2 separate regions of the Homo sapiens genome follow, and region 2 is linked to region 1. Evidence: fine-mapped QTL for protein levels in blood plasma. A gene starts in region 1. The other region holds a variant in brackets. All regions are shown on one strand. Distances are between the middles of the regions. Region 1 holds the start of ADAMTS8 (ADAM metallopeptidase with thrombospondin type 1 motif 8). Region 2 overlaps ADAMTS8 (ADAM metallopeptidase with thrombospondin type 1 motif 8).

Evidence for each region. PIP is the chance, under the fine-mapping model, that this variant and not a neighbour inherited with it causes the effect. Protein levels are from antibody-based Olink assays in UK Biobank. Linkage for the fine-mapping came from a reference panel and not from the study's own genotypes, which makes the PIPs less certain.
Region 2: its variant is fine-mapped to the plasma level of the ADAMTS8 protein (UK Biobank, PIP above 0.99). The variant lies in the coding sequence of ADAMTS8. If it changes the protein, the assay may bind it differently, which can mimic a change of level.

Annotation. Positions count from the first base shown.
Region 1 is chr11:130,427,483-130,430,382 of GRCh38, reverse strand. ADAMTS8 (ADAM metallopeptidase with thrombospondin type 1 motif 8) reads left to right here and starts at 1,774. Exons shown (of 9, transcript NM_007037.6): 1 at 1,774-2,816. The coding sequence starts at 2,097.
Region 2 is chr11:130,404,402-130,407,301 of GRCh38, reverse strand. ADAMTS8 (ADAM metallopeptidase with thrombospondin type 1 motif 8) reads left to right here. Exons shown (of 9, transcript NM_007037.6): 9 at 1,174-2,379. The coding sequence ends at 1,744. Among named protein-coding and RNA genes, the nearest start is that of ADAMTS8, 23 kb to the left of the region's middle. The variant A/G (reference allele first, on the strand shown) is at 1,448.

The DNA.
Region 1 (2,900 bases):
AAGATCGCACCATTGCACTCCAGCCTGGGTGACAAAGTGAGACTGTGTCTCAAAAAGAGAAAATCAGGAGTTGTACTCTGGGAAACAGCAAATAAGGGGCTTCAAGGAGGTAAAAACCAGTCATTGAACTGTTACAATAGCCCTGAGGCAACACAGAGTTGTATTCATTGCTTGCCCAGGTCAGACTGTCCCAAGCACTGTACAGGATGTCCCAAGCACTGTACACTGTGCTAGGACGAAGTGTTTTGCTTGTTTTGAGAAAAGGGTTGAAGAGACCATTCTTTCCATTGTCCTTCCTCTAGAAGTGTTTCCCCAAAACATTCTAGACTCGTTATTCCTATCCTATAAATTATGCAGGAAAGGAGGTTCTGCACCATGCTAGGTTGGGAAGTTCATCCTTTCATCTAATTCACAGCTGTCCCTCTGTGTTTCTGAGAAAGCAAAGAGAGGGGGGATACTTAGAGGGAATTTGGCAGCACTTTCCCCTGGGCAAGAGCCTCCTCTTTGGAGGTAACAAGCCCTGAGAGTCTCAGATGCATGCTGAACCACCACACTGCAGGAAGGGGTCAGATGGGCTGAAAAGAATCAGCGATGACCTCGACTGTCAACATCCCCAGCATAAGCACAGAGCTGGGTACCTGGGGGCAGGTGAATTGGCAAAGGATTTAAAGGCCCTGATCCCAGCGGTTCCTAATGCATCACCCACATTGACAACTCAGAGAAAGGCACAGTTGGTGGATGAGTCTAGAGTTTGTAGGTAGAGAACAGGGCCCTCCACCCAATCCAGACCTGTGTCATTGAGACTGGGATGGGATGCAGTTTTGTGGTCTTGAGACCATGTCATCCCTCTCTTCCTGAATACTACCCCCTTCCCTAGGGGGCAGTGGTGACATGGGACAGAATAAATTCACCTCATACACATTTGTTCCTGGGGCTGTGGCAACGCAGTGAAAGGGCCTGCCACCTTACTTGAAGTCCCGGGCAACTAGCAGTATCCAGAAGAGAAGACCTTTTTCAGGGACTGGAGGTCTGTTTCCCTCTTGGGGAAATGCTAACTTCCAACCTCAGTGCTGGTAACTTACCACTGTGCTGGCCTCTGCCCCACCTGCCCTCTAACAGGACAGTGAGAGTCCCTCTTAGGGTTAACCAGGTGGGTTGTTTTTTGTTTTGTTTTTGTTTTCCCCATCTTCAGTTTGGAGTGAAAGTTAGGAAGGCTGTGCAGTAGTGATGAGAGGAGGGCATGATTTTAGCATGACCTTTTCCTCCTCTCCCTTTATGCTTTACAATGAAAAGCTCAGGAACCTTCTCCCCACACAGTCGGATCTCCGGAGGCATCTGCAGGGATCCCAACAGTGTCGGGCTCTGCAGTCGGACTCTGCAGGGATCCGAACAGGGTCGCTGAGACCAGTGCACGAGCCTCTTCGGAAGATGCATCCTGGACTCTTGGCCGCAGAGGAGAAAGCGGTTGGGGTCTCCCAGGGACTCTTTCTAAAGGGTCAGTCCAGCATGGTAGGGGTTAACGTGGGTCCACGCGTAGAGGGAAAGGAAAGAAGTTGTAGTTGACACTTCAGGGGGGCGGGTGGCGGACGGGTCTCGCTGCCTGATTGGTTTTGCATTTCATCCCAATTTTTTTTTCTCCACTCTCTCTCCCTCTTTTCAGTTTCTCTCTCTGATCCCAGGGGAGGGGAAACGGGAATAGTGAGAGATCAAAAATAAACCTCTTATGTCAAGCCGGGAAGGAAGTATAAATAAGAAGGGCTCGGCAGCCCACTCGGTGCTTCCCGGGGTGGGGAGGAGGCAGGAGGCGGCTGCGCGGGGCTGGCGCGGGCAGGGGCGGAGGACGGGCGCACGCGGGCCGGGGCCAGCTGCTCGCGCTCGGCTCGGGGGCGGCGGCGCGGGAGGAGCGGGCTGCGCCAGCCAGAGGGGCCGCCGGGGGAGCGCTCCCGCCGCCGGGCCCCGCGGGCCGAGTCGGCCTTGCACCCGATTGATTCCGCTTTTCCTGGAGAGAGCGGCCGGGCCGCGCTCGGGCCGCCAGCACCTGCCCGCGCCTGGCGGGCTTCTTCCCTCTCCTGCGCGCAGCCACCGCCGCAGCCCCCATGCTCCCCGCCCCCGCCGCCCCCCGGTGGCCTCCGCTCCTGCTGCTGCTGCTGCTGCTGCTGCCGCTGGCCCGCGGCGCCCCGGCCCGGCCCGCAGCCGGGGGGCAGGCCTCGGAGCTGGTGGTGCCCACGCGGTTGCCCGGCAGCGCGGGCGAGCTCGCGCTCCACCTGTCCGCCTTCGGCAAGGGCTTCGTGCTGCGCCTGGCGCCCGACGACAGCTTCCTAGCGCCCGAGTTCAAGATCGAGCGCCTCGGGGGCTCCGGCCGGGCGACCGGGGGCGAGCGGGGGCTGCGCGGCTGCTTCTTCTCCGGCACCGTGAATGGGGAGCCCGAGTCGCTGGCGGCGGTCAGCCTGTGCCGCGGGCTGAGCGGCTCCTTCCTGCTGGACGGCGAGGAGTTCACCATCCAGCCGCAGGGCGCGGGGGGCTCCCTGGCTCAGCCGCACCGCCTGCAGCGCTGGGGTCCCGCCGGAGCCCGCCCCCTCCCGCGAGGACCCGAGTGGGAGGTGGAGACGGGAGAGGGTCAGAGGCAGGAGAGAGGAGACCACCAGGAGGACAGCGAGGAGGAGAGCCAAGAAGAGGAGGCAGAAGGCGCTAGCGAGCCGCCACCGCCCCTGGGGGCCACGAGTAGGACCAAGCGGTTTGTGTCTGAGGCGCGCTTCGTGGAGACGCTGCTGGTGGCCGATGCGTCCATGGCTGCCTTCTACGGGGCCGACCTGCAGGTAGGACTGAGAGCCTCCTCCAGCCGCCGTGCCCGGAGGCCCCCCAGACGCCTCCCAGCGTCTCTAAAATCTCCCCTTCCAATC
Region 2 (2,900 bases), 23 kb after region 1:
CTGCTTCCCAGGTTCAAGCAATTCTCCTGCCTCAGCTTCCCAGGTAGCTGGGATTACAGGCATGCACCACCACACCCAGCTAATTTTTGTATTTTTAGTAGAGACTGGGTTTCGTCATGTTGGCCAGGCTGGTCTTGAACTCCTGGCATCAAGTGATCCGCCCGCCTTGGCCTCCCAAAGTGCTGGGATTGTGGGTATGAGCCACTGCGCCCTGCCTTGGAACTCTTTTTACATTTAAGCTCAAAAGACATAGAAAAAGAGAAGCAGACACTATTCAGATACTGGGTCCCTTGGCCACTTTCCCTCAGGCTTTAGACAGATGGGCCTGTGGACACTCTAAGAGTCTGAAACTAAGCAGCTAGCCCCAGCTGGACATATGGTAAGAAAAGCAAAAAGCCCGCCTGACCACTCGCCTCACTTTCTCCCCAGCCTATGGAACCCAGATTTCCAGAAAAGAACAAACAACTAATCTTTCTTCATCCTACCTAAAGCCCTAAGCCTATAATGGACTGGAAACAGTTTCCCAAAACTGCTTCCTATCATTCCAGAAGCACAGTGCTCATGGTGCCTGGGCACTCCCAGAAGGTGGCTTCAAAGAAGCAGGCTTAAACCCCCAACTCCCAACCCCACCCTGATCCCACCCTAGGGCCATATTCATCAAATACTAGGAGCCGACTGACTCAGAGAGGTGGTGTGAAATTTCCCTCCTGTTCACGTTCTGGAAGGGGTGTGTGGAACAGTTTTTTCCATGTGGGTTTGAGCTCTGGGTATGGAGGTGGCCAATCAAAGTTGTATACCAGTGCAAGGAGCTAGAGGTATTTGAGATCACATTTGACAGGTGCCAGGTTTGGCTACACCAGTGCAGCTTTCCACATCCTTCTGGGTTCTCCTCGTCTCTATGCTGTTCTCAACACCCACATACCTCAACTCCTCAACCACACTTTTGAAATAGAGTTGCCAGATGAAGCAAACACCCTTGAAAATCCCAATGTACAGACATTTCTGTCTGCCTAAACAGCTAATTTATTGAGAACTTTGAGGCAACTTGCTTAATTACTTGCTTTGTTTTTTTCGTGTCTGCCACCTGGGGTGCCCACTTCAGTCTCCAAGGCATCATCGTGACCTGGGCTGGGCAGCCACTGGTCTAAGGGTGTCCTTCTGTTTCTATCACAGTTATGGCTACAATGACATTGTCACCATCCCAGCTGGTGCCACTAATATTGACGTGAAGCAGCGGAGCCACCCGGGTGTGCAGAACGATGGGAACTACCTGGCGCTGAAGACGGCTGATGGGCAGTACCTGCTCAACGGCAACCTGGCCATCTCTGCCATAGAGCAGGACATCTTGGTGAAGGGGACCATCCTGAAGTACAGCGGCTCCATCGCCACCCTGGAGCGCCTGCAGAGCTTCCGGCCCTTGCCAGAGCCTCTGACAGTGCAGCTCCTG[A/G]CAGTCCCTGGCGAGGTCTTCCCCCCAAAAGTCAAATACACCTTCTTTGTTCCTAATGACGTGGACTTTAGCATGCAGAGCAGCAAAGAGAGAGCAACCACCAACATCATCCAGCCGCTGCTCCACGCACAGTGGGTGCTGGGGGACTGGTCTGAGTGCTCTAGCACCTGCGGGGCCGGCTGGCAGAGGCGAACTGTAGAGTGCAGGGACCCCTCCGGCCAGGCCTCTGCCACCTGCAACAAGGCTCTGAAACCCGAGGATGCCAAGCCCTGCGAAAGCCAGCTGTGCCCCCTGTGATTCAGGGGGGCAGGGGCCAGTCTTGTGCTCCTGGACATGCGGTACTGAGGTGCAGACAAGGGTCTCCACTGTGGTGACTGGGTCCCTTGGCCATATCAAGGCAGCACGGCCCACCCAGGCCTCCCATTGCCGCAACCCCTCCAGTACTGCACAAATTCCTAAGGGGGAAGAGGAGAGGGTATGGGGCGGCAGACCCTATCATCAACTGTCCAGTGGACTGGACCTTGCTCGGGTTCAAGTAGAGGGCATAGGTTAAAAGGTAAAAGTGCACTTATTGACTCAGACAGGACACTCAGCGTCAGTCTGTTTGCAAAGGACTAGCAAACTTAAATGAAAAAAAAAATTCTATCTGGTTTCCCCGATAAATAATCTACCTCACAGGGGAAAAAATTAGTACAAGAGAGGCGTGGGGCAGGGAGTCAATGGTGAATGTCAAAGCAGGCTCCAAAGCTGGACCCCAAGCTGTCTTCAAGAATGACCACGACTGTCTTCAGTGTTAAAATCCATCACCTAAAGGGCCGCAGCGTCGCAGGGTTTGGAGAGCCACATGTTCTCAGGCTGCCACCTGCAGGGGTGGATCCATTTCAAGTATTTATGCAAATGTGTCTCTGAACTAAAGTGTGATCTTATGCCAATGCAGTGGTCTGGTCTGATTCATTGTTTCTTTGGAAAGGGCAGCAACCTAGAACCCAGGGATGGAGGCTGAAACTAGGTCAGCAGCTGGATCCCTGCCTGCTCTGGGTCCTCACAGGCCTGCAGAATCCAGCTCATTCGGGCAACTTTCATTTGCAGGATCTAGACCAGTGGTTCCCAAGGTTTCATTAGGATCACGTAGAGGGCTGTGAAAATGGATTGTGAGGCTGGGCACAGTGGCTCACACCTGTCATTCCAGCACTTTGGGAGGCTGAGGCAGGAGGATTGCCTGAGCCCAGGAGTTCAAGACCAGCCATGACAATATGGCGAGACCCTGTTTCTATAAAAAATTAAAAAACGAAATCAGTCGGTCATGGTGGTACAGGCCTGTAGTCCCAGCTACTCAGGAGGCTGAGGTGGGAGGGTCACTTGAGCCCAGGAGGTTGAGGCTGCAGTGAGCCATTTTCATGCCACTGCACTCCAGCCTGGATGACACAGTGAGACCCTGTCTCAAAAAAAAAAA